2 separate regions of the Homo sapiens genome follow, and region 2 is linked to region 1. Evidence: fine-mapped expression QTL. A gene starts in region 1. The other region holds a variant in brackets. All regions are shown on one strand. Distances are between the middles of the regions.

The links. PIP is the estimated chance that this variant, and not a neighbour inherited with it, causes the effect.
Region 2: its variant is fine-mapped to the expression of KIAA1549 in fibroblasts (GTEx, PIP 0.93).

What each region holds. Positions count from the first base shown.
Region 1 is chr7:138,973,585-138,985,996 of GRCh38, reverse strand. KIAA1549 reads left to right here and starts at 4,608. Exons shown (of 20, transcript NM_001164665.2): 1 at 4,608-4,914. The coding sequence starts at 4,728. RefSeq lists enhancers at 3,831-4,180, 4,803-5,689, 10,930-11,430, 11,431-11,931 and silencers at 4,161-4,290, 4,311-4,690, 4,731-4,860, 5,700-5,994.
Region 2 is chr7:138,885,764-138,898,175 of GRCh38, reverse strand. KIAA1549 reads left to right here. Exons shown (of 20, transcript NM_001164665.2): 10 at 3,650-3,834. Among named protein-coding and RNA genes, the nearest start is that of KIAA1549, 89 kb to the left of the region's middle. The variant A/G (reference allele first, on the strand shown) is at 6,975.

The DNA.
Region 1 (12,412 bases):
CACCTGTCCTGTTCTCTTTAGCTGTCCAAGTCCTCTTCATTTTTTAGGCGCCCCCTAACACCCAGCTTCCATGCAACACTACACTGAAGCTTTGCTTGATCTCTTGTGCCAAATATGATTTCTACTTCTTTGAACTTTTTTTTATAACTTCCTTCGGACATCTGTCATGTTCTACTTTGCAATATGTAGGTTTTTAAAATTTGTTTTTTTTTTTCCCGTAAGACTGTAAGCTCCTTGAAAAAACTGTAGACAATTATTATTTTTTTTTTTTTTGAGGCAGGGTCTAGCTCTGTTGCCCAGGCTGAAGTGCACTGGCATGATCACGGCTCACTGCAGCCTTGACCTCCTCAGGCTCAGGTGATCCTCCCACCTCAGCCTCTCGGGTGGCTGGGACTACAGGTGCACGCCACCATGCCTAGCTAATGTTTTGGATTTCTTCATAGAGATGGGAGTCTCACCATGTCGCCCAGGCTGGTCTCAAACTCCTGGGCTCAAGCAATCCACCTGCCTCAGCCTCCCAAAGTGCTAGAATTACAGACGTGAGCCACTGTGCCCGGCCTAATTAATCTTACTGATCATTTAGCACATGACTCTACGGGGCGCTTACTTAGTAGGGACTCAGTAAATATTTTTTGAATGTTTATTCTGGCTACTTCTCCACTTTGCACAGTTGTTCCCTCTGCCTGACACCCTCTTCCCCAGCTATCCCCATGGCCCAATGTCACCTTAGTAGGGTGATCATCCCTGACTATTCTATTTAACACAGTAACACTGACCCTTCCCTCACTCCTTTTCCCTCTTTGTTATTCTGCAAATTGTTGTCATCAGCCGAAGGCTCACTTACTGATTGCCTGTCTCCTCTCACTAGAACATAAGTTCCACGAGGAAGGGCCTTTGTTTTGTTCACCGTTATACCTCCAGTGCCCACTGCACTGCCTGGCATATGGTACATGCTCAAAAAATATTCATTGAATTTAATGAATGACCTTTGTGAACATTCATCTTATTTTGTATAATTCTCTTAAGAACCGAACCCACAGCTAAGCAAGGTAGGCATGTGAAGCCCATCATCAGATAAGAACATTTGAGGTTTGAGAGTAGGGTGAAGCATTTTGTTCAAGTTCATAAACTTTTCTGTGACAGAGCAGAACGCAGAACTCAGCTGTCCTGATTCCTATTCTAGGACTCTCACACTACCCTCTACCGACTTCCAGCCATCCTCTAACTTCAGTCCCTCTGTCCCATCCTTATCCAGACCCTAAGAATTGAGGGGCCCAGGTCAAGAGTGCAAATAGGGGCTCACGCAGCCCATTTCACATTTGGCCATTTTGGCCATTTCACATCGATGACCAGATTTTCATCAGCAAGTTACATGCCAAGCAAGCAAACTATTAAATATGTCTGTTCTACCTTAACAAACGTATGTCTTCAGAATGGTTAGGCTGGTTCACAGGCAGGATTCGCAGACTTCCTGCAGTTGTGAGCAGAACATCGCAGCCAGGTTGCCATGTGAATATGGGCCATGCCCGATCTTCTCTTCCCATCCCTGGTCCTCTGCTTCATTCCTATAGGTTTCATGTGCGCATCTTTAGAGATGCCTCCTGCGTAAGTTTTGCCACTCCCTAGCAAACAACTACCCCGTGGGACCAGACACACCCTTGGTGCAGCCTTGGGAGAATGGACTTGAGGAAGAGGCCACATAGGCCTGAAGATGAGCCTGGGGTGAAATGGGCAGGATTCTGGGGTCCTGGGCACCTGAGCATGGGAAGATGGGCTGCTGGTGAGGGTGCTTCCTGGGCTTCACAGACTCTGTCCTGAGGAGAGAGGTGCAGTTTGAGAAGGCCAGAGTGGGGCCCGCTTCGTCTAGGTCTAAGGATAGTACTGAGCCTACCTCTCCCTGTCTCCAAACCAGATTGTAAGCCTATCGAGGACCCAGGTTAATTTTCCCCCTCCCCTGGAGGGTGTGTGGTTTAACTGGAGACGACAATTCCAGTTGGAGTTGAGCCTTATGGAAATAAACTAACCTCTCTGGCTTGTTTCTTTATCTATGAGAATTGGATGAGATGATCTCTAAAATCGATTTTAAAATCTTACACACACACACACATTTGCACACACTCCCCTACCTCCAAGGACCACTCATCCCCTCTGAGTCTGCAGAGTAACACCACCTACCAGCTGGACTGTCAGAGCCTGGTAGACATTTTCCCAGACATGGAGGCAGAATGCCTTAAATCCTAACAGAGGTAAGATTTTGTTTTATGCCTTCAGAGCTGGGAGACTAAGGGACCCTAGGGACCTCACTTTCCACGGACACTTTGGTGTCCATGAGTCATTTCTAGTATCTCAGGGTTCCAATTTTTATTTTTACTTCCAGCTGATCAATCTCTTAATGGCAGGGCAAACACTATTGTCTTTGAGTTTGCAGAGAATGGAGAAGGAGACTCCTTTCTTTTTTCTTTTCCTTTTTTTTTTTTTTTTTTTTTTGAGATGGAGTCTTGCTGTGGCACCCAGGCTGGAGTGCAGTGGCGTGATCTTGGTTTACTGTAACCTCCGCCTCCTGGGTTCAAGTGATCCTCCTGCCTCAGCCTCCTGAGTAGCTGGGATTACAAGCACGTGCCACCATGCCTGGGTAAATTTTTCTGTGTTTTTATTAGAGACGGGGTTTGCCATGTTGGCCAGGCTGGTCTTGAACTCCTGACCTCAGGTGATCTGCCTGCCTTGGCCTCCCAAAGTGCTGGGATTATAGGCGTGAGCCACCGCGCATGGCCGAGGGAGGCTTTTTTCTCTGACACCAACGGGTCTAGTGTAGATGGCAGCTTGCAGGAGGCTGAGGCCAAATCTGAAGATGGAACCTCTTCACGGGCGGAATGCATGCTCTGGCTCAAACCAACGATTGTCTACTGAGGGCTTACTGGGGCTATGAGAAATCCTAAGCAGGATAGCACCATATTTGAATTTCATATTAATTTATTGGAGGTGGGGTGGGGGCTGTGTGTGCAAAGCATAAATTCATAAAAGATAAAACAACACAACAGGACAAGACCATTCAAGAGTTGCACGAAGGCAGTGGTTTGTGGTCAAATGTGCTGTTATAGAGAGTTCAGAGAATAAAGATAAGTGTGTGAATAAGAGGTCCCAGATCTATGGCCATGGTGTCCTGGGACCAGACATATCTGGGCAGTTTCTCTTAGGTACTTACCTGGGTGTGCACGCAGAACCCTCTTTGGGAGACAGGAGCAGTTACTGTAATAAACATAGGGGCTGTATGATGGGGGGTTACAATAACGTGTAAAAACACCAGGAACATCAACAAAAGCTTTTTTTAACCTTTATTCTCATTTTCCTTGAAACTACCAGGTTTCAAGTACCCACCTGTAAGGACCAGGTGTGTACCTACAGAAGAGTGCCCCTGTCCTATTCTTAGGAAGAACTATTCGCCAAGGGCAAGGAGTCCAGAAGAGTTGGAGCTGCAAGGCTGGGCAGCCCCTTCAAGGGCTGGGCCTGGCAGGGGAACCCGACTGAATAGCCGCGAGGATCCCTCTGCCAGTGTAATGATTCACCTTTTCCGCTGTCTGCCATAGTTTTTCTGCACGAGATAGTGTCCCCCACACACACCGTTAATATCTGCTTGATGCAACAATGCCAGTGGGATGCAACGATTCAAAACTTCCAATTCCTCCTCCCTAGACCCTGAAGCCACGGGGCGTCTTCAGAGTGACGTGCCTGGCACACAGTAGGTACTTGACAGATGTCAACTCCCTTCTTCCCGTTCCTCATTCCCCCCGCGGACTCCAACCCTCAAACGCTCTCTGGGCATTCTCTCCACCTCTCAGGAGCGCCACTTTCCCTAAAACGGCCTGGCCTTGCGGGTCTCCCCAGCTCCACGCCCATTCGCTTCAGCAGCCGCCTGCTCAAGGCCTGCTAAGTGCAGGGTCCCGCGGGCCTCCCAGGCCCTGAGCGCAGGGTCGCTTCCCGAAGACCCGCAGAGGTGGCCGCACCTTCTTAAGGCAGGAAGGCGGGGGAGAGCTGCGTGCGCTCTGCTCGCCCCTGCCTTGCACGCTGAGCTCTAGCGCAGGAGCCCGACTTTGTCTGGCTTTGTCCCCTCCGCGGCCCCGAGGCTGTCCTGAGAGCGCGGCGCCCCACACACCTGCTGCCCGCAAGGAGTCGGCGGGAGAGGAGGAGCGAGGGAGGCGAGAGGACCCCTCCCCCGGCTTGCCGGCCTACCCTGATCCGGGCGCCCCGGGGAACGCGCGGCGGGACCCGGGGTTGGGTGCGGGTCGGGGCGGCACCGCCCGGCCCAGGCCCCCCGAGCCCCTCGCGCTCCCTCCGGAAGGCGGGTCCTGGGGGAGGGCTGGGCCGCGCCGCCTCGCCGCCCTTGCCGCCTCTGCCGCGCCGAGCCCCGCGCACGCTGCCCCGGCCGCCCCGCAGGCAGGCAGGCAGGCAGGCAGGCAGGCGTCCGGCCGGCCGGGAGGGGGTGCTCGCCGTCCCGCGCCCGGGCCCGCGCGTTGCCGGGCAGCGGCTCCGAGGCTCCGAAGGGGGCGGAGCGGCAAGGCGGGCGTGCGGCTGGCGCCCCTGTCCTCGGTTCCGGCCCGGCCCGCCCCCGCCTCTCCGGCCTCCCTCCGCGCCGGTGCGCGGCGCCCCGTCCCAGCCGCAGCCGCAGCGGCCGCCCCTCCCGGACCCGAGAGCCGCTGAGCCGCGAGGCCGGGCCGGGGCGCCGGCCGGGAATGCCGGGGGCGCGGCGCCGACGCCGAGGCGCGGCCATGGAGGGGAAGCCCCGCGCCGGGGTCGCGCTGGCCCCGGGGCCGAGCGGCCGACGGCCTTCCGCCCGCTGCGCCCGCCGCCGCCGCCCGGGGCTGCTGCTTCCTGGCCTCTGGCTGCTGCTGCTGGCCCGGCCGGCCTCGTGCGCCCCAGGTAAGCTCCGCCGAGACCCTCGGAACGCGGCCGCGACCCCGCCTGCCTTTATCGCTGCTGTTTTCAAAACCCCGGCTTTCCCCGCCCATCCTCTTTTATTCTCCAGCTCCCTCGCCGTCCTTTCTGGAAGATGCTTTGCCATTCTTCTGGGGCCCAACAAATAAAGGCACGGGGGAAATAAATAATTAAAACGAACAAGCGAGCGGCTTCTGGCCGGTCTTGCTAAGGGGTCTGCAAAGCTGTTCTCTTGTCCATGGAACCCGAAGCGGGTCTGGTGGCTTCATCTCAGAATGTGCCTGGTTTTTCCTGCAGAATGCAGGCACCGGCGTGCTTTTTTGTCAAGGCTGTATGATGTGGCATATCGAATGTTTTGAGATACTTTATTGTCGGGGCGAAGAGGTGGATTCGAGGTGTGCTTTAAAAGAGTATTGCATTACCGGGACAAGCCCAGCGTCCCCCAGATGCGGGCAGGCCGGCCGTGTCCCCCCGTACAGCAGGACACAAAGAACATTCAAAGAAAACCTCTTGGAAAGCGCCCTGGCCACGGATCTTTCCAGGGAAATAGCTATTGGTATTACTTCTGCAAGGCATTATTAGTACAATGGAGTGTGAAAATATTTTGATTCTTAAGTGTCTGGGCATGAAAGGAGTAAGGGCTGTTTTTATAACAGATGCAATTTAGTGACTGTTCATCAGTATGGAATGAAGAGGCATGATTTATGAAGAAGCATAAGGGTTTTGTTGTGGAAGAAATGATTTAATTCCTATTGCTTCTCCAAAATGTTTATTTGTCCACCCTGAGCCTGTACACAGGATGGTCTGGAAACCGTCTCTGAGCTGACACTGCAGGCCAGCGATTGCCCCTGCACAGGCACTTGACCACTTTGAGGCGGAAAAGGAAAGGTGGAAGGAGCAGCTAGGGGTGGAGAGCTGCTGCACACAGAACAAAAACCAGAAAGCCGTGAACGCTGCTCCGAATCCTCCTTTCTCGTGGGAGCAGGGCCAAAGGGCTACTCAGTGGCTGGGAGGAATTGGAACACATTTGAAGGTGTCCCTTGGACCTGTGAGAATTATAACCAGTGCCCTAGAGGGGATGGTACAATAGAAGCACAGGGAGGACTTCAGGGATCATGGAACAGGTCCACTCTGCTTACCAAAGAGGAAACTAAGGCAGAGAAGTGCCTTGCTCAAGGTCACAGTCATCACTTTCCCTGCCTCCCACCCCCGCTCTTGGCCCATAGACATATCCACACCTGAAGCCTCTGCAGAGATTTCCCATAGCTGGGTGGAACCAGGGTTGGGGTGACAGAATGAGTCTCTTTTAGGCAGTATACAGCTAGTGCAAACACCTTACTCTAACCTAGGACCTCCCGTCTCAGTCCTGCTCCTGCGAGTTCCAGCCCTGTGTGTCCAGAGGAGAAGAGATCATTGTCAAGGGTCTCTTGGCTTTAGTCAACAAAGAGAGCCCATCTGATACTCGTGGATTCATCTGTCATAAGACACAGCAGATAAATGGTTTCCATCTCCTGAGTGCTTTTTGTGTGCCAGATGTTGAATTTTATATACACGATCCAATCACGTTGTGAGTTAGGCATAGTTATCCCCATTTTACAGATGAGGAAACTAAGGCTTTGAGTTTAGGTTGGTTTGGCTTCAGACTCTATGACATGCTTCCTTTCTGTGCCTGATGGCTTCCCCATATGAATGTGGCCATCTGGGTGTACTGCAGAGGTTGTGGAGAATATAAGTGCTTCTGGTAACTTTAAAATAAATAGTGAAGCTGTTTGCACTGCCCATCCCTAACCTTCTCTTCTTTGGAAGTCCTTTCCTGCTTCCCCTCTACCCCCAATACAAATATTCAACCTGGAGACATGAAATTAATAATATTTCCATTCTAGACCTGACATCATGGAAAGAGACTTCATCCTTTCACTGGTTTGTATATTGGCTTCAGCCGCTGCCAGGCTCATAGACTAGGAACTAAGAAGTGGAGGGCACAGCCCCTGTGCTCCAGGATCCAGCTGGAAACACAGAGCAGTGAAGGAAGTACAAACCCTTGCACAGACCATTCCCGGACAGGAAAGGCAGGATTCCTTATGGATGACCTGCTGGAGGTGACCCCATCTACTTGAAGACTGTGAGGAACGATCTTGGTGGAGGGTGGCTTCCTGATGTAGCTAGGGTGTGTGTAGGGTGCCTGGGCGGTGCTGTTGATCCTGGGAAGAGGGTGCGTTGCAGTTGCTTGGGCTGCCCTCCCAGTCCTGAGTGTGGTATTTTCACCAGGAGATTTGGAATGTAGGAGAGCTTTGCTGAACACTGCTGTGGTGGTTGGTTCTCTTTCTAAGGAATAAGCAGTGGTAGTCAGAAAATGGCATGGCTTAGACCTGTTTTGGACTTCCTATGTGAGGCAGCATTCCCTTCCGTGGCTGTCTGAAAGCTATCTCCTCCTTCAGCTGGCTTCTCTTGTTAACTTTTGTTCAATAGAGTCCACCTTCCAGGTGGTCCCCTTATTACAGTCTTTGGTTAAATCTCTATGTTAAATCGATTTCTTGTCTATTTGTATTTCATTCAGCATTTTGAGTGTGTTTTTTTAAAAAAAAAATTTACAAGTTTGGTCTTAACCATTGACTGTTGTGGAAACAACTTGTAATGCTTTGGACTTACTTTTGAATGCATTGCTCTTAAGTGATTAGCCATCCACAGTATAAAAACAAAGAATCATGCCCAGTTTCTTCACCTTATTCAGAGATAAGTTTTTAAAAAGTAATAGTTATTATGAAATAGATTGCTTTGTAGGGAATTTGGAAATTACTGAAAGGTACAGAAACCAGTCACCCATAATCTCACAGCCTGTAGGTAACACTAAGTAATTTTATCGTTTTTTTGTTGTTAACATTAAAAAAAGAATTATATGCACAATTGTATTTACTACCATTTCCACTCTACATTTAACTTAAGCATTTTTCCATTCATTAAGTCTTATTTGAAAACTATTTTCTATCCTAATGATTTATTCTTTTATTTCCATTTTTTGGGTTGCTGTAAGTAATGCTGATGAATAGCTACATAGAGAAGGCTCTGCTGGCCATGCGCGCTGGCTCACGCCTGTAATCCCAGCACTTTGGGAAGCCGAGGTGGGCGGATCACCTGAGGTCAGGAGTTTGAGACCATCCTGGCCAACATGGTGAAACCCCGTCTCTACTAAAAATACAGAGATTAGCTGGGTGTGGTGGCATGTGCCTGTAATCCCAGCTACTTGGGAGGCTGAGGCAGGAGAATTGCTCGAACCAGGGAGGCAGAGGTTGCAGTGAGCCGAGATGGCGCCATTGTACTCCAGCCTGGACGACAGAGCAAGACTCCGTCTCAAAAAAAAAAGGCTTTGTGCATGTTTCTTTCCGTGTGTGTGTGTGTGTGTGTGTGTGTGTGTTTTCTTGAGTATACATTTGTGGAAGGGGTATTAGAGTGTGATTAAAATGTAAGGCCCACCAGGCTGGATTTCTGCATCTTTTGTTCAAAATGCTGGGCCCCTAGTAGGTACTCAGTATGTGATTTTTGAATGAAGCAATTTTTGAAAGTTATAATGCTGACATAAGCCCTTGAAGCTTACGCAGGGGCCTTCCATTATCACTTGCATTGAGTATTCACTTCATCACTGGCATTGAATGTTACTTTAAAAGCCCTTGTTAAATAAATTTGTAATACATTGTTTTAACCTGCACGGTTTTATTGCTTTAGAATTGAATATTTTTTATTTTGTATTTGTATTCTGTGAATTTTCTCTGTATTTTTATTTATTTACCTGTTGTGGCATAGATATGTATTTAAATCTTTATGTATTAGAAGGATAGCAACCATTTTTCCTTCTATATGTTGCGTTTTCCCCTTCCAAAGGAATTTCTTTTAAATTTTACATAATTTTGAAATGTAGAAGTTTTTGGTTGTTTTGATTAGCAAGATCTGCCATTTGTTCTTTTAATAATTTTTTTATTGCATTTATGCTTATGGTGTGTGAAATTTTTTTCTTAATGTGCTGTTTTATTATTGGCCATTTCTAGGTGAATATTTATGCTTTGTGAGTCGTTTAGGATATTATAAACAAATACTTAAATGTTTCAAAAGTGTGGCCCCTAGGCCTCCTGCATCAACATCATTTGGGGATGTGGGGGTGCTTGTTAAGAATTTAGATGTCTACGACTCACCCTTAGCCTCTAAATTAGACTCTTTGGTGGCAGTGCCTGGGAATCTTCATTTTAACAAGTTGACAGCTCCGTTTTAGCCCCTGAGCATTGGAACCACTGATCCGGATATGGTAAACCCAGTAACTGAAAATTAACAGTATTTTGAAGATATAGTAGTCCCTCCTTATCTGCAAGGGATGTGGTCCAAGACCCCCAGTGGATGCCTGAAACTTTGGGTAGTACTGAAGTCTGTATATACCATGGTTTTTTCCTATATGTACATACCTGCAATAAAGTTTAATTAAAAAATGAGGCACAGTAAGAGATTAACAATAATAACAAAACAGAACAGTTCTAACAGTCTACTGTAATAAAACGTGAATATGCTGTATCTCAAAATACCTCAGAATATCTCAAAATATCTTCAAACTGCAGTTGTCCTCCGGTATCCGAAACCTTGGAGGAGGGGGACTACTGTATACCATTGGTATCTTGCAGTTGTCTTTTCACTGTTAGAACAGCTAATTTAAAATCGTTATGTTGAGGCCGGGCGCGGTGACTCACGCCTGTAATCCCAACACTTTGGGATCACCTGAGGTCAGGAGTTGGAGACCAGCCTGGCCAACATGGTGAAACCCGGTCTCTACTAAAAATACAGAAATTAGCCGGGTGTGGTGGCAGGTGCCTGTAATCCCAGCTACTTGGGAGGGTGAGGCAGGAGAATTGCTTGAACCCGGGAGGCAGAGGTTGCAATGAAATGAGATCGCGCCACTGCACTCCAGCCTGGGTGACAGAGCAAGACTCCATCTCAAAATAAAATAAGATAAAATAAGATAAGGTAAAATAAAATAAGCATTTTTTGTTACATGTTTTTGCTTGGTTTTGTTTGGGTTGGGAGTGAAAGGGTGCAGAGGACTGCATTTTCAATGCTCACTCCTGCCCGTTTGGGAACAGCTGCTGCAGTGCTTGTCAGGAAGTGCCTCACTTAATTCTGAAAACAGAACCCAGCCAGGGAGTTGTTACAAGTCACTAGGGACGTGGGAGCCACAGGTTTTCTATCAGTGCCCTGAATGATAGAGGCAGCTAATTACCGTCATTATAATTACACTAGGTTGATTTTCCCAGATAGGAAGACACTGTTCTAACTGATCTAATTTGTTTTCAAGTTGTGACCACCCACCTTTCATCTGGAGCTCACAATGATGTGATTTCTTTTTCTTGTTGTTAGGCAGCAGGATTTGTTAAAAGGTGAGTTAAAAAACCTGGGTGTGTGCAAATGCAAATCTGCCTGTAACTTTGTGACTATGGACAAGTTACCTTGTCCTGGGTTTCCTCCTCGGTGTAAGAAAGGGTTAATGAGATTAGCGCTAATCTCATTAACCCTCTAGCTCCTTGTAGCTCATTTCTCCCTGTAGCTCCTACATATCAAGTCAACATCTTGGATGTCTTGGAATGCACTTATAAGCAGCATCTGTCCTTTTTCTGTTAGGTTGTTTTGTCATTTCTCCTTGCCTGGTAGATGTTCTAGGCCCATGACCTGCTGAAGGCAGCTCACTCTCACCATTGCAGATGGCTCTTCTTTTTAAAAACTCCCTTTATTCTTCCCTCTTGCATCCACACACTCAAGACCCATACTTTGCTTTCTCTTATTCTTTCTCTTTGTCTCTTTCTTTTTTCCATCTCCTTTGTTAGCTTCAGGCAATTACTTCTCATTAGTGAAATTCTAATCTTGTGGTCCCCACACTCTGAGCATCATCACTGCCTCTTAGCTCGCATCATCACTGCCTCCACTGCCTCGTAGCTTGTTAGAAAATGCAGAATCTCAGGGCCCACCCCCGACCTTCTGAATCAGAATCTGCATTTGACAAGATCCCCCTGGTGATTTTGCATGCACAATTGAGGTTTGGGAAGCACTGGGCTAAGAGGTAAAGTGCCTTCTGTTCTAGCCTTCTGGGAATAGGTATTGTTGGAACATTGAAGGCTAAGTCAGCCTGGACTAACTCTGGAGCTATGTAAATCTCCAGAGACCTTGAGAGACACCTGCTTTTGGGACTGAGTCTGTGTAAATAGTGTGCAAGAACCATATTTTATTTGACCAGGCAACTAGATTAGAATTGTCCCCTAGACCTGCTGTTTTCATTCATTGCGAGCATTTGACTGGTTGTAAAAACACTGAGATACAGTCTGGATGTGGTGGCTCACGCTTATAATCCCAGCACTTTGGGAGGCTGAGGCAGGTGGGTCACCTGAGGCCAGGAGTTCGAGACCAGCCTGGCCAACATAGTGAAACCTCGTCTCTACTAAAAACACAAAAAAATAGCCAGGCATGGTAGTGGGTGCCTGTAATCCCAGCTACTCAGGAGGCTGAGGCTTGAACCCGGGAGGCAAAGGTTGCGGTGAGCTGAGATCGCGCCACTGCACTGCAGTCTGGGCAACAAAATGAGACTCTGTCTCAAAAAACAAAACCAAACCACTGAGATACTACCATAGCAGTTGGTAAATAGCTGCTGTACTGAATATTCCTTGCTCCCCACCCCCAAGTACCCTGAGCCTCCCTGCCCTCTTTCAGGACTCTTCTCCCAAGGACCACCGCCACCCTCCACCTCACCGAGATCCAGTGACTGAAGGGTTAATGCTCAGCACAGCAGGTGCCTCAAGGACTCTGCTTTAGTTTTTTGGCTGAAGACCATTCTGGCAGGTTTGAGGTGCTATCTCATTGTGGTTTTAATTTGCATTTCCCTAATGATTAGGGATGCTGAGCAATTTTTCTTTACCTGTTGACCATTTGTGTGTCTCTTTTGAGAAATGTCTGTTCAGATCCTTTACCTGTAAAATTAGAATAGCTCCCTTTCCGACTGTCAGTGCTCGTGCTCCACTGCTGTTAACTGTGTTGACTATCACCTGTACATTCATTCATTGATTTTTAATCTATCCCAGATCCAGTACTTAGAAAAAAAGTTAGGCTGGGTGCGGTGGCTCACGCCTGTGTTCCTAGCACTTTGGAAGCCCAAGGCGGGAGGATTGCTTGAGCTCAGGAGTTTAAGACCAGCCTGGGTAACATAGTGAGACCTTGTTTCTACAAAAGTACAAAAATTAGTTGGGCATGGTGGCATGCACCTGTAGTCTCAGCTATTCGGGAGGCTGAGGCAGGAGGATTGCTTGAGCCCAGCAGGTTGAGGCTGCAGTGGGCTGGGATTGTGCCACTGCACTCCAGCCTGGGTGATAGAGCAAGAACTTAAAACAAAAAAAAAGCTTGTTAAATGTTGTACTTGATGGTAGTTGAAGTCATAGATATGGAAGACACTAGTGAGGGGGGAGCA
Region 2 (12,412 bases), 88 kb after region 1:
ACCACCATGCCCAGCTAATTTTTGTATTATTAGTGGAGACGGGGTTTCACCATGTTGGCCCGGATGGTCTCGATCTCTTGACCTTGTGATCTGCCTGCCTTGGCCTCCCAAAGTGCTGGGATTACTGCAGGTGTGAGCCACTGCACCCGGCCCCACCTCACAGATTTTGAGTATTTAAAATTGAAGAAAAAGGAGGCACATGGAAGAGTGTATTTTTCTAAATAGTCCTTTACGGTGTGAATCAGATTCCTCTTTTTTTTTTTTTTTTTTTTTTTTTTTTTTTGAGAAAGGGTCTTGCTCTGTCACCCAGGCTGGAGTGCAGTGGCTTGATCGTAGCTCACTGCAGCCTCAAACTCCTGGGCTCAGGTGATCCTCCTGCCTCAGCCTCCTGAGTAGCTAGGACCACAGTCACCACCACTACACCCAGCGATTTTTTCTTATTATCTGTAGAGACAGGGTCTTGCCATGTTGCCTAGGCTGGTCTTGAACCCCTGGCTCAAGCAATCCTCCCACCTTGACCTCCCAAGGTGTTGGAATCCCAACCATGAGCCACCACACCTCTTTTAATGTCAGTGTTTTTCCTTTGTGATCCTGCAAGCAGTCTTGGTAAGAGAATGGTGAAACTTGCTCCCAGCAATAAAAGGAGAGGTAAATGTTTAGAGGGAATTCAGCATCAGAGAATACAGAAAAATCTTTATGGAGAACATGTAGGAGATAAAGACAATTTTTAAAAAATGATAGCTTTTAAATTATCCTTGATAGTAGAAGGTTTTTATGAAATCTGTACTTGTCCCTGGAGACCAACCAAGATGAGAGCTGATGGGCATAATTTCTCTATTTTATGGAAGATGATGGGAGGGTTTAAGCAAATAACCATTGGCAATTTGTGTTTGTGTATGTGAGATATGATCACATATTGATGTGTTCTCCTCCAAAGCAGTGAGCAAAAAATAGCAAAAGCACTTCGTTACAGTTCTTCATATATGCGATTCCTGATTGTAGGAGACGTGCCCTACTCCAGCCAAGCACTTGACATTTTAAACAGCTAATTGCAATAGAATATGGGCACCTTTCAGATGTGATCTTGCACCTCTTTTCCTCAGTTTTGTACCGAAAACCACGTGGGTAAAGATCCTGGGATCTCAGGGATGGCGATTGAAGGAAGCCTCAGCCAACACCAGGGATAGCCCAAAGGCAGCCCCAGGACACTGGTGTCAGGGTCCAGTTTGATCAACCTCTGCCTCATCAGGGTTTTCCTAGGTTAGAGTAAGAAGAGGGCAGGTGTGGTGGCTCACACCTGTAATCTCAGCACTTTGGGAGATAGAGGCAGGAGGATCAGTTGAGCTCAGGAGTTCAAGACCAGCCTGGGAAACATAGCAAGACCCCATCTCTACAAATAATAATAATAATAAGCTAGCTGGGCATGGTGGGGCATGCCTGTGGTCCCAGTTACTTGGGGGGTCTGAGGCAGGAGGATCACCTGAGCCCAGGAGGTCGCGGCTGCAAGTGAGCTTGATTGTGCCACCACATTCTAGCCTGAGTGATAGAGTGAGACCCTATCTCAAAAAGAAAAAAAAAAAACAACCACACCCACAAAAGAACTAAGAAGAGTGTCCAGTTGTCTCAGCTTCTCAGTTTGATTCTGTCCGTACTTCTATATTGTCCGTTGCTTTTATGCAAAATGAGCTACATATATTAACTATATTCAGCCCAAATTAAAAAACACAAGTTTTTCACTTTGTTGCTTTTTACCACATCCCATGCAGCCTGTGCTCTAATCTGTGCTTTTTTCCCTGGTGCATTTGATTTAGAATGCTTGCTCCCTCCCTTGCCACTCCCTTAGGTGTCTAAACCCAAAGTTAAACCAGCACCAAGAACCCTTTTTGTTATTACGTCTTTGAGCAGATACCTTTTGATCCCATAGCAGGTGTTAACCATCATAGGGTATGAAAGGAGCATAAGACTTAGTCCCTGCCCATGAAAACTAAGATGTTTTTGAAAAGACAAGATTTGGCGTCAAGACCGGATGAATGAGTGCAGAAGCGTAGCACTTCACGGATTATCCATTTATATAACAGGAAGCATTTTAAATGAGCAGTAAGGCACCATGTGCAAAACAAAGAGCTAGTGAAGGACATGAAGTGGCCGAGGAGTTGAAGTGCAACTGTCCTATGCCGTGAAAGAGAAGTGGGGGCCGGGTGGGGTGGGTGTGGCAGCAGGGTGGGGAGTGGTGGATCCAAAATGAGTAAGATATGCTTCGTGTAAAAGTGGACAACTGGTAGCTTAAATAATGCCGTTTCGATGAGTCATGTTTCAAAGGTTTAGGGAGAGACACAGGTGGGGCAATGAAGGCAGTGCCTATGGGACGCTTATTAGGACTTCAGTTTCCAAATTAACACAGTGAAGCTTCATTTTGGAAAACATAAGGATCATCTTCCTTCTTTTTTTATTGCAGTAAAATATACATCAAGAAATGTACCAATTTAACACTTTTAAATGTATACTTCAGTGGCATTCAGTACGTTCACAAGGCTGTGTAACCATCACCACTATCCATTTCCAGAATTTCTTCATCATTCCAAGCAGAAGCTTTCTATGAGTTTTTTTCTAGATACCTCATGTAGGTAGAATCATACATTTTGTCCTTTTGTGACTGGCTTGTTCCATTATCATGATGTTTTCAAGGTTCATCTGTGCAGCAGCATGTATAGAATTTCCTTCCCTTTTAAAGCTGAATGATATTCCATTGTATGGCTATACTACATTTTGTTCATTCATTCATCTGTGGATGGGCATTTGAGTTCTTTTCATCTTTTAGGCTGTCGTGAATAGCGCTGCTACGAACATCAGCATCTCTTTGTCATTTTTCATTGCTGAAGGGGAAACGACCAGTTGCACTGGTGCACATGTCGTATCTCCTTACTCTGTTTTGCTTTGTGTTTGGCACTAGTGCAATATGAAATTATTCGGTGATTCATTTACTTGATCATTTCTCCTTTCCCCCACTAGGACTTAAGCACCTCAAGGGATTTCGCTTGTTCATGGTTGAGTCCCAGCTTACAAACTGTGTCCAGCACACTTAATAAACATTTGTGAACATGAGAAACTTGGAGTAGTGAGGGAAGGGAGAAAGAGATGAAGGGTTTTCTTCCATAAACTCCTAGTTGAGATGCATGTGCTTTATGTGATCTAGGAGGGTGTGAGTCCTGCGGTACTTGATGGAGCGGGCAGGATTATGTTCTGGAGACACAGCTGTTTTTCTCTCCACTTTTGAAGAGAACTGCCTTTGTACAAAGTTGTGCAGAACCAGTTTTGGTGTGGAAATATCCTGCAGTGATAAGTTACGGGTGAGCTAGTAGAATAAACTGGAAATCAGGAGACCTGGAATTAACTGAGCTTTGCCATTAATTCAGCCATGTACCTTTGGATATATCCATATGTCGTTGTGATCCCTGATGTATTCTAGATGTAACATTGTATGTTGTGTTTCTCTGCTGGTCACATTTCCTGTCATCAGGAGATTAGAACCTGGAACCAGCTATCTTGAGCTGGAATGTCAGGGACTTCTGAGTTTCTCATAGAAGACACGTGCAATCTAGTGCATGAGTGAAGAAGGAATTATTGAAAGACCTTTCTTCCTTGTCTGCAGCTGTCGACAGGGTGAAGAGGCCGTCTCCGGAATCCCAGAGCAACAACTTGTGGGTCATTGTTGGCGTGGTCATCCCAGTGCTGGTGGTGATGGTGATTGTTGTCATCCTCTACTGGAAACTATGCCGCACAGACAAGCTAGACTTTCAGCCTGACACTGTGGCCAACATTCAGCAGCGTCAGAAGGTAACGGGCAGCCTCTTCCCCCAGTGTTCCTATAAGCAGTTTTGTGGGGCAGGGATAGGATGAGTTTGGGCTCTTGATACTGAAAGATGAGGAAGAGGGAGGGCTATTATGGAAATCTTCTGGCTTTAATAGTGGTATCACTTTGCCTTTGTTTCTGCTTCCTGAAACCCTCCTTCTGTGGTAGTAAATACAGTCCAAGAATGTGAAACTGTATAAAAGCCTAGCCATGACATGCCCTCCGGGTTCTACTATGATTTTATTTTGTATTTTTTGAGACAGAGTCTGGCTCTGTCACCCAGGCTGGAGTGCAGTGGCGTGAGCTTGGCTCACTGCAGCCTCCGCCTCCTGGGTTCAAGCGATTCTCCTGCCTCGGTCTCCGAATAGCTGAGATTACAGGCGTGTGCCACCACACCTGGCCAGTGTTTGTATTTTTAGTAGAGACAGGGTTTTGCCATGTTGGCGAGGCTGGTCTCGAACTCCTGGCCTCAAAAGATCTGCCTGCCTTGGCCTCCCGAAGTGCTGGGATTACAGGCATGAGCCACCGCACCAGGCCGAATTCTGATTTATTTTATCCCTGGATATTTTCAGAGGATAGGAGCCAAGGCAGACTTTCTCAGATCTGTTTATCTATTTTGTGTACAACTCCATTGGTCAGTTGCTTTATTTTCTGTTCACCCTATTTGGAAGCCCACTTACCCACCTTGATCATTAAAAACGAACAATACATACCTTGAACATTTTAACTTAAAATATATGAATGGACATTTATTTGCCAATCCTTCAACATATCCCAAGTCTTGTTTTGTTTTGAGTGTTGGTCTACTGAGAGGAATTGTGTTTGGTCTTTCTTACAATAAACAACACCCATGACGTGTCAGTTTCAGGTTCCAGTTTGGGTTTCTTTAGAGAAGAGCAAAGCTACCTGAATGCAAAGTTCTCTCGATTTTTAATACCTCCCCCCACTCCCTATCTTAGAGAAGAGCAAAGCTACCTGAATGCAAAGTTCTCTCGATTTTTTTAATACCTCCCCCCACTCCCTATCTCCTAATTTTGCAGACTTTTGAGTTAATTCACTCACACCTAATTTGACAGCAGATTTTTTAAGTAACCCCTCTTTCCTATGTCTTTCCAAAGCATTCAACTTAAGTGTTTATAGAAATAGCAATTTTCTTTTCCAACGTATGTTTCAACAGTTTCCATAGTATTCGAGGGTCACATCAGGTTTCAGAGCAAAGACATTGACTTTTGGTCAACATTGAGCTCACCTGGTGTGAGCAAAAACATGCCAGGCCTAGAGGAGCACTCACTAGTACAGCATAAGTATCAGTCAGCGTGTTTACCAAGGGAGTGGAACGTGGTAGTCAGTCCACTGTTACTAACAGTCTGCTGGATTAACATGCACTTTCCGTGGGTCTCCCAGATTTGGAGGACTCATCCTGCTTTAAAAGCTTGATAAAAACAAGCAAAAGTCAAAAAACAAAGAATAAAAGATTGCCCTATTTATTTTTAAACTTTATTTTGGTTGTCTTGGGTATGAAAAATTCTGCATATTACAAACCTAGACCTGTCGAATGGAAAAAAAATATGCATTACTTTAAAATTTATTTTACTTTTGTAAAAGCAAAGAAAGAGTATTTGTCTTTTCATATGAATTAACAAAAAAATGCAAAGTATTTATTAAATTGCAAGCTTATGGCTATCAAGTACATGAAAAGCATTTTATACATTAATGTTATGTTTGTTGCCTATCTTTGTTTATTATTTACACAGTCTGCTAAGGTTCTTTTGTTGTTCTTGTTATACTGGTGAATGGCATGGGGAAACCTGGAAAAAAAGTGCTGGGTATACTAAATGATTCATAGTGTGAATTTCACTGTAATAAGATCAACAATAGGTTTGGAAATGTTTTTGTTCTGTTGAAGAGTGTTGTTACAGAGGGAGTTAACCAGTGTAGACGGTTATGTATTTAGGTCTTTTATGGGCCACATTTCCTAACGTATACACTGCCATGGAAGTCCATCTATTATCTGTAACTTCAGTAAATTATCAGAGCACAGCGTCTCTTGGGGTCAAAATGGAATATTCCCCAAGCTTTCTCCTTCTCTCACTTTTACTTCCTAAACATTTTCAAGTCCCAGATGTGGCTGTAAATCAAATGGACAGAGTTTCAGATGGAACTTCCAGCCCTTAGAGCTGCTCTTTTTCCTTCAGGGCTGCAAAGACCTGCCCATACATCCTGACAACAGGTTTACAGAAAAGGTCCTGCAGGGAGGATTCCCCAAAAGAATAACTGTCTTCTGACACTGTTAGGAGGGCAAAGCCTTGCCAGTGTTGCAGAAGCTCAGTCGTGTTTTGCTGGCACAGGAACCCACCCTATAGATTTTGTCGTGTGTTTAAAATGGGAAAATGATCTCTTCATTTAGTTTAAAAACAAATGTCTTTAGTTCATACGTGTTTCTTTTAAGGTCATGTGGCCATAGCAAAGGGCCTCTAGCCTCGTCCTCAGGGTAATGTGCAGAGATGTCACCCTCCCCTATGACTTCAAGAGCTCTGTCTCCTGCTCATGTGGCTGTTGTCTCTCTCTCCGTTCTGCTCTCCCCACCTCCTGATGCGCCTCACCATACTCTCGGAAATCCTTCAGCAAATCCCAGAGCTGCAAACATCTGGAAACAATAAATCTGCTGACCTAAAATCTGCACCCCCCTTCCCCTCGTAACGAGAAGGAAACCTCTTCAGATTGTCTGGGAGTAGATTAATTTTGAAATATGATAGGAGGGAGAGGCCATTCTGTCTTGTTTTGAGGCACAGCCTTTGCTTATTTTCAGTAATAAAGAAGAAAACCCCATGCTTTCTTTTATCTGTATTCTCTATCTGTAGACTCAAGTCATCATTTGTTACTGTTGCCTAAAAAACTCCAGCCCGGATCCTCTTCATCATGAATGGCATTGGCTGGATGCCACTGGCCTCATGGAAACTTATTCCTTCTGATGGGGGATAGTCCACACCTCGTTACTGGTGTCAGACCAGAGCTCCTGACTGCCCTTGGTTGCTTCTAAAGGGCAGCACTTTGGGCAACCGGCTGGAGCTGCCTCAGGCACTGGGTGTCACTCACCAAACATTGAGCATTTGCTGTGAGCCAC[A/G]CCAGATCCGGCTCAGTTACCAACACAAATAGCACGCGATCTCTGCATTCCAGGGCTTTAGCAAGGGAGAAGGACGAGCCATCCGAAAGCAGACATCCAGGAGTATAAGGATGTCTGGAGAACACAGAGGAGGGGGGCACCCCATTTGCAGTGGTGGGGTACTTCTACCTTCTTCAAGGAGGTGACACCAGGGCTGAAGCTTCACGGTGGAGATGAAGGCGGGCCCAGTGGGGGAGCGGAGGGCAGCTCAGGAAGCTAGAGCAAAGGTCATAAAAAAGGGCACAGCCGAAAGCCAGGTGGCAGAGAGCCAGGCCCTGGGGGGTTTTCAGGACATAGAAGGGATTGCAAATTATGCTGTAAGCAGTGGGCAAGCATTGAAAGGTTTTCAGCAGGGAGAGCAGCTTGAACACATTTGCTTTTGGAACGATCCCTTTGGGAGGCAGTATGGACAGTGAATTGAAAAGAGGCTCTGTGAGCATATCGTTCCATCTCAGCCAAGGTCAGCTCATTCCCTATGGTTGCTGTTTGATTCTCTGCAAAGGTCGCCTGTCACACCTAACGTGTAGGTGGTCTCAGTTCACCCACAGCTGGCTGACCGTGCCGGGTGTCACCTGTGGGTGGGAGAATCTGGGAGCCCTGCTCTCCCAAACTCCGGGACCACAGGGTTACGGGAGTGCCCGTGTGGGGCTGCACTGAAGACAAACAGATGGCAATAACTTTGCCTTGTCTCCACTTCCTAAATGGAAGCAGCATGGTGGTTGTGGTGACGTTTCACAAATGACATCAATCAGGTAATAAATGCTTTCAATGGCACTCGCTACATGATGGCAAATTTTTGTTCAGACACTTTTGGGATTTGCTCTGTGTTTCTATTGTCATCTCAACTCCTTCCCAGGGGCTCAGGCTAACCCGAATACTGTGGGCTTCACTGCGTTTTGTGCCACCTGGGCTGTACTGTATTTATGGCCCACGTGTTCACATTCATCAGGCGTCTCTCTCATTACTTGGCTGACCTGCCCACCAGTCAGTCTCCTGGGCTTGTTGGTGACGTATTCCGGTGGGGCACAGACACTGTGGCCTGTTCCCTCTGTGATATGTTAAAGAGAGAAAGAACAAAAGAGCCATCCTTCTTCAGAAATAACTCGGTCCTAATATGAATATTGAACACTCTCATTAATCTTGATTCTTCTTTTATAAAATACTGATTAAACCTATGCTGCATGTGGGAGGGAGCTGGAGACATTGTATACCAGCCAGACTGAACTCTAGGTTCTATTTTAAAAGAAGTGGAGAAACTAGAAAAAGTGATCTGGCAAGTAGAGATGAGACAAAAGAAGGTAATTATCTAAGGGAGGAGGGGCAGTGTTCCCTCTAGGTTTTCCTTCTGTGTGTAGATGGCTTTTGTTTTGTGCATAATACGCACAGACTGGTTGCCAAATTTCTATTGGTATAGAAGGTGATGACTCACTCAGTTTGTGAGAAGTGCAAGGATCTAATGGATGTATTTAAAGACTTTGGTCAGAATCAACAGTAAGCCAAGAGGACTTGTATATTTCATTTATGACACGTGCCGTTTTCTTGGTTACCCAGAAAAAAACCAGTCAGTTTGGTACTTCAGTTGAGCGTTTTGAAATTCATCTGGTCATCAGCTATTTCTTGAGGGACCCTGTGTCGCATCTTGTTGTTGACTTAACAAAATATTGTATCTAAATTCTTATTTATAACTCTGATGCCTTAGAATTCTTAGCTGTATATTAACTGCTCGATGTTTCATCAATCAACAGTAATAATAATGCTGTCAGCATCATTTGTAGGGTACTTTGGCATTTATGAAGCATTTTCATGAATACTGTCATGTTTCTTTCCTACATGGGCCCTGAGTGTACGTGAGGGAAGACATTTAGGTGCCTAGGCTTGGGCTACGTAGACCGCCCTATAGAGGCAATACTGTTTGTATTTTTACGTTGTTGACTTTGGAGACCTCCACTTAGGGGAGGCCATCTGTAGCTCCTTTTCCAGTTTTGGTAAAGCAAACCACCTAATTTGTTAAAAACAAAACAAAACAGTTGCCCAGTCATTAGAGGCATTCACTTTCTTAATGGGAAGTATACCAAAAAGGATTTCAGCAAGGTTTATTAAATGATGGAGGTGATGATTAAATGACTGTTTAGTATATCTGTTTTCTTTCGCTTAGAGGCACCTTGTATGTAGTTAAATGAAGTGCTGCTGGGGTAAAAGCAACCCCATAAAATTGGAAATCGCTCCTGTTAGGATTTTTATCATCAGCTGTGAATAAGTGGCATCCAATATCAATTTTCTCAGGCATCTGAAAAAGGCTTGACAGATGGACATTTGAGAATTATATAGATGGATTAGTATTTCATTTCAAGATGAAAATAATATTTATAATTATATATTTCATAAATTAGGACCGCATGTCAAAGTCTGAGAAAGGAATCATCTTAATCACACAGAATGGATTTTTTAATGTGCAGGAGGGTTACCTCTTAGCCTGCCTAATTTTTCATCTGCCCATACATACATCAATGATTTGCTTTCAAGAGAGCAGTTGAATCTTTGTGGAAATTTACAACAAAAGGAAAAAATATTCGACTAGTAAGTGTGGGGTTTAGAAAAGACACATAGATGATTGCTGTTAAGTACATTATGGTAGAATCCAAACGTGTTGCTGTGTAGTTGATCTAAATCCAGTAAGTACACAGGGACAACAAATAAACCAGCAGAGAAAGGGGTCATGGACCAGTGAACAAGTGACTTGCATTCAAGCAACCTGGACACAGATGTGCAGTATCCAGTAATCAATCATTTGAAAGAAGTGAACGAAAGTATCCTGCAAGTCTGAGTAATTGTGCGGGAAAGTATACAGTATTAACTCAGCTCTCCCTTATTTGTTCTTTTGAAGTTGTAATTTTGATCTTTCGGAAGTAAACATGGACCTTTTCACCCCTTTTTCCTTTTAATACAAAATATGTTGTTAAGACCCCAACTGAGTCCCCGTGGACAAGGGTGCCTGCCAGGCTTTCATTCCTGAGGATGGTGAGCTCACGGAAAGCATATGCATTGTGGCACCTTGGGTTTCCCACATGCTGCTGAACAGATCTTGAAGATTACAGTTGTCACATAGACAGATAAAGCACAGAGCCCTGCCATGAGTTTGTCCCCTGGATGAAATGAGACAATGCCCTTGGCATTTCTCACTGCCGTCCTCTTCCCTGTTCTCCTTGTATTCTTCTGCGGGAGTGAACTGTTCTTCAATGGCTGGGAGATGGTCGAGGGGAAGCTATGAAATAAAAACCTCACTGCTGCTGCTGCTGCTGCTGCCACCTCCTCTACAGAATATCTAAGTTCACAGTTTCCCAACGTGGAACGAATTGTCCTATTTCATGGCTGTATTTCTCTCTCAGTTCTTTAAGAGAGAAAGCAAACCATACCACAAATTTATTGTGCCTTGATTGACCAAGACCAGCATTTTGAATTGTGATTTTATTTGATGTTCCCGAGGTTTCTACATCTCTGGGCAGAGCACCGCAGGAAGCTGCTGCATGGATGACAGGCGGGCCTCTCTTCTGTAAAGTGGGAGGACTTGGGAAAGGGAAGGTGGGAGGGGGAGCCAGCATGCTGCCCGGACCACAGGCACATGCTGGACAGCTCTCAGGAAAATCACTAGTGTAGGGAGGACTTGTACAGAGGTGTGCATCTGGAATGATCCCTGTAAAAGGGCTGCCTGCTCCTAGAAAACTGTGTGTCTGCTCCCCGGGGTTTGGGTAGACCAGTTGAAACTCAGGGTGCTAGTCCATGGGTCACAGATGAGAAAATAAACGCATTTTATTTAAATACGTTTTAAATACATGTGTTTAAAGAAACATCTAATGATGAATTTATTTTATGTAAATAAATATTTAATAATTAATTTAAATAATTTACACAAGTGCTTAATAAATTTACTTTAAATAAATATTTAATAATAAATAGGCCAGGCGTGGTGGCTCATGCCTGTAATGCCAGCACTTTGGGAGGCTGAAGCAGGCGGATAACCTAAGGTCAGGAGTTTGAGACCAGCCTGGCCAACATGGTGAAACCCCATCTGTAATAAAAAAATATGTACATAAAAGTTAGCCAGACGTGGTGGTGCACGCCTGTAGTCCCAGCTAGTTGGGAGGCTGAGGCAGGAGAATTGCTTGAACCCAGGAGGTGGAGGTTGCAGTAAGCCGACATCATACCATTGTATTCCAGCCTGGGCAACAGAGTGAGACTCCATCTCAAAAAAAAATCATAATAAATACATTTACTTAAATAAATCATAATAAATACATTTATTTAAATAAATAATAATGGGCATGCAGTGGAACAACAGGTTTGGGTTTGTCATTTGCAAAAGGCTGAGGGGCTGTTATGCTCATGAACTGCTGAAGTGGTGGAGTGGTGTACTCCTGTAACAGGAGCTCTTTAATCAGAAAACAGGAAGTCAGCTTTTGCCTTTTGTTTCATTTTTGTAAATTGTGTTTACTGTAAGTTTTGTCCCCCTCTGCTGGCATAAATCATTATTGCAGATGACATTCCTTCTACCCATTGATCCGAGAATTTCAGCTTATAAAAGATCTTAAGGCCGGTCTCAGTGGCTCACGTCTGTAGTCCCAGCGCTTTGGGAAGCTGAGGCAGGAGGATTGCTTGAGCCCTGCAGTTCCAGATCAGCTGGGCAATGTAGCAAGATCCTGTCTCTACAAAAAAATTTTAAAATATTAGCCAGGCGTGATGGCACATGTCTGTGGTCCCAGCTCCTTGGGAGGCTCAGGTGGGAGGATTGCTTGGTCTTGGGAGATTGAGGCTGCAGTGAGCTGAGATTGTGCTACTGCACTCCAGCCTGGGTGACAGAGCGAGACCACATCAAATGAAAAAAAAAGACCTTAGGTCACAGACCTAAGCCACTGATGTTGTCACTCATTTGTGCATAAAGTTAGCACAAATAAGACAAAGCCTTTTGTTTCTGTGTGTAATATATTGTCTAAAATCACTCCTTAGATCTGTTTGGCCTTTGTCTTTTGACTGACAGGACTCTGTAGGGGTGTGTGTGTGAGTGGAAAAACTCGAACCATGTTTCTCCTCTGCTCTCACACCACACAACAGTCAACACAGGAGACTTCTGTGACCGAATTTGGGGGGGGGCTTTCCTCACACACCAAGCAGCAGTTATCAGCTGGGTGTCCTTGAATTCAGTTCCGACACTGTCCACTGGGAGGTAGCCTCAGATCCTACAGGTGGAGGGCTGAGTCCCCAAGACTGTCCTCCTCCACCCGCACCCATCACAAGTGTAGGTCTCCAGAACTTCTGACCGACTGGCTTCAAGTTGAGGTTCCCACCATCGCTTTTTGGGTTTGATTAATTTGCTAGAGCAGTTCACAGGACTTGGGGAAACACTT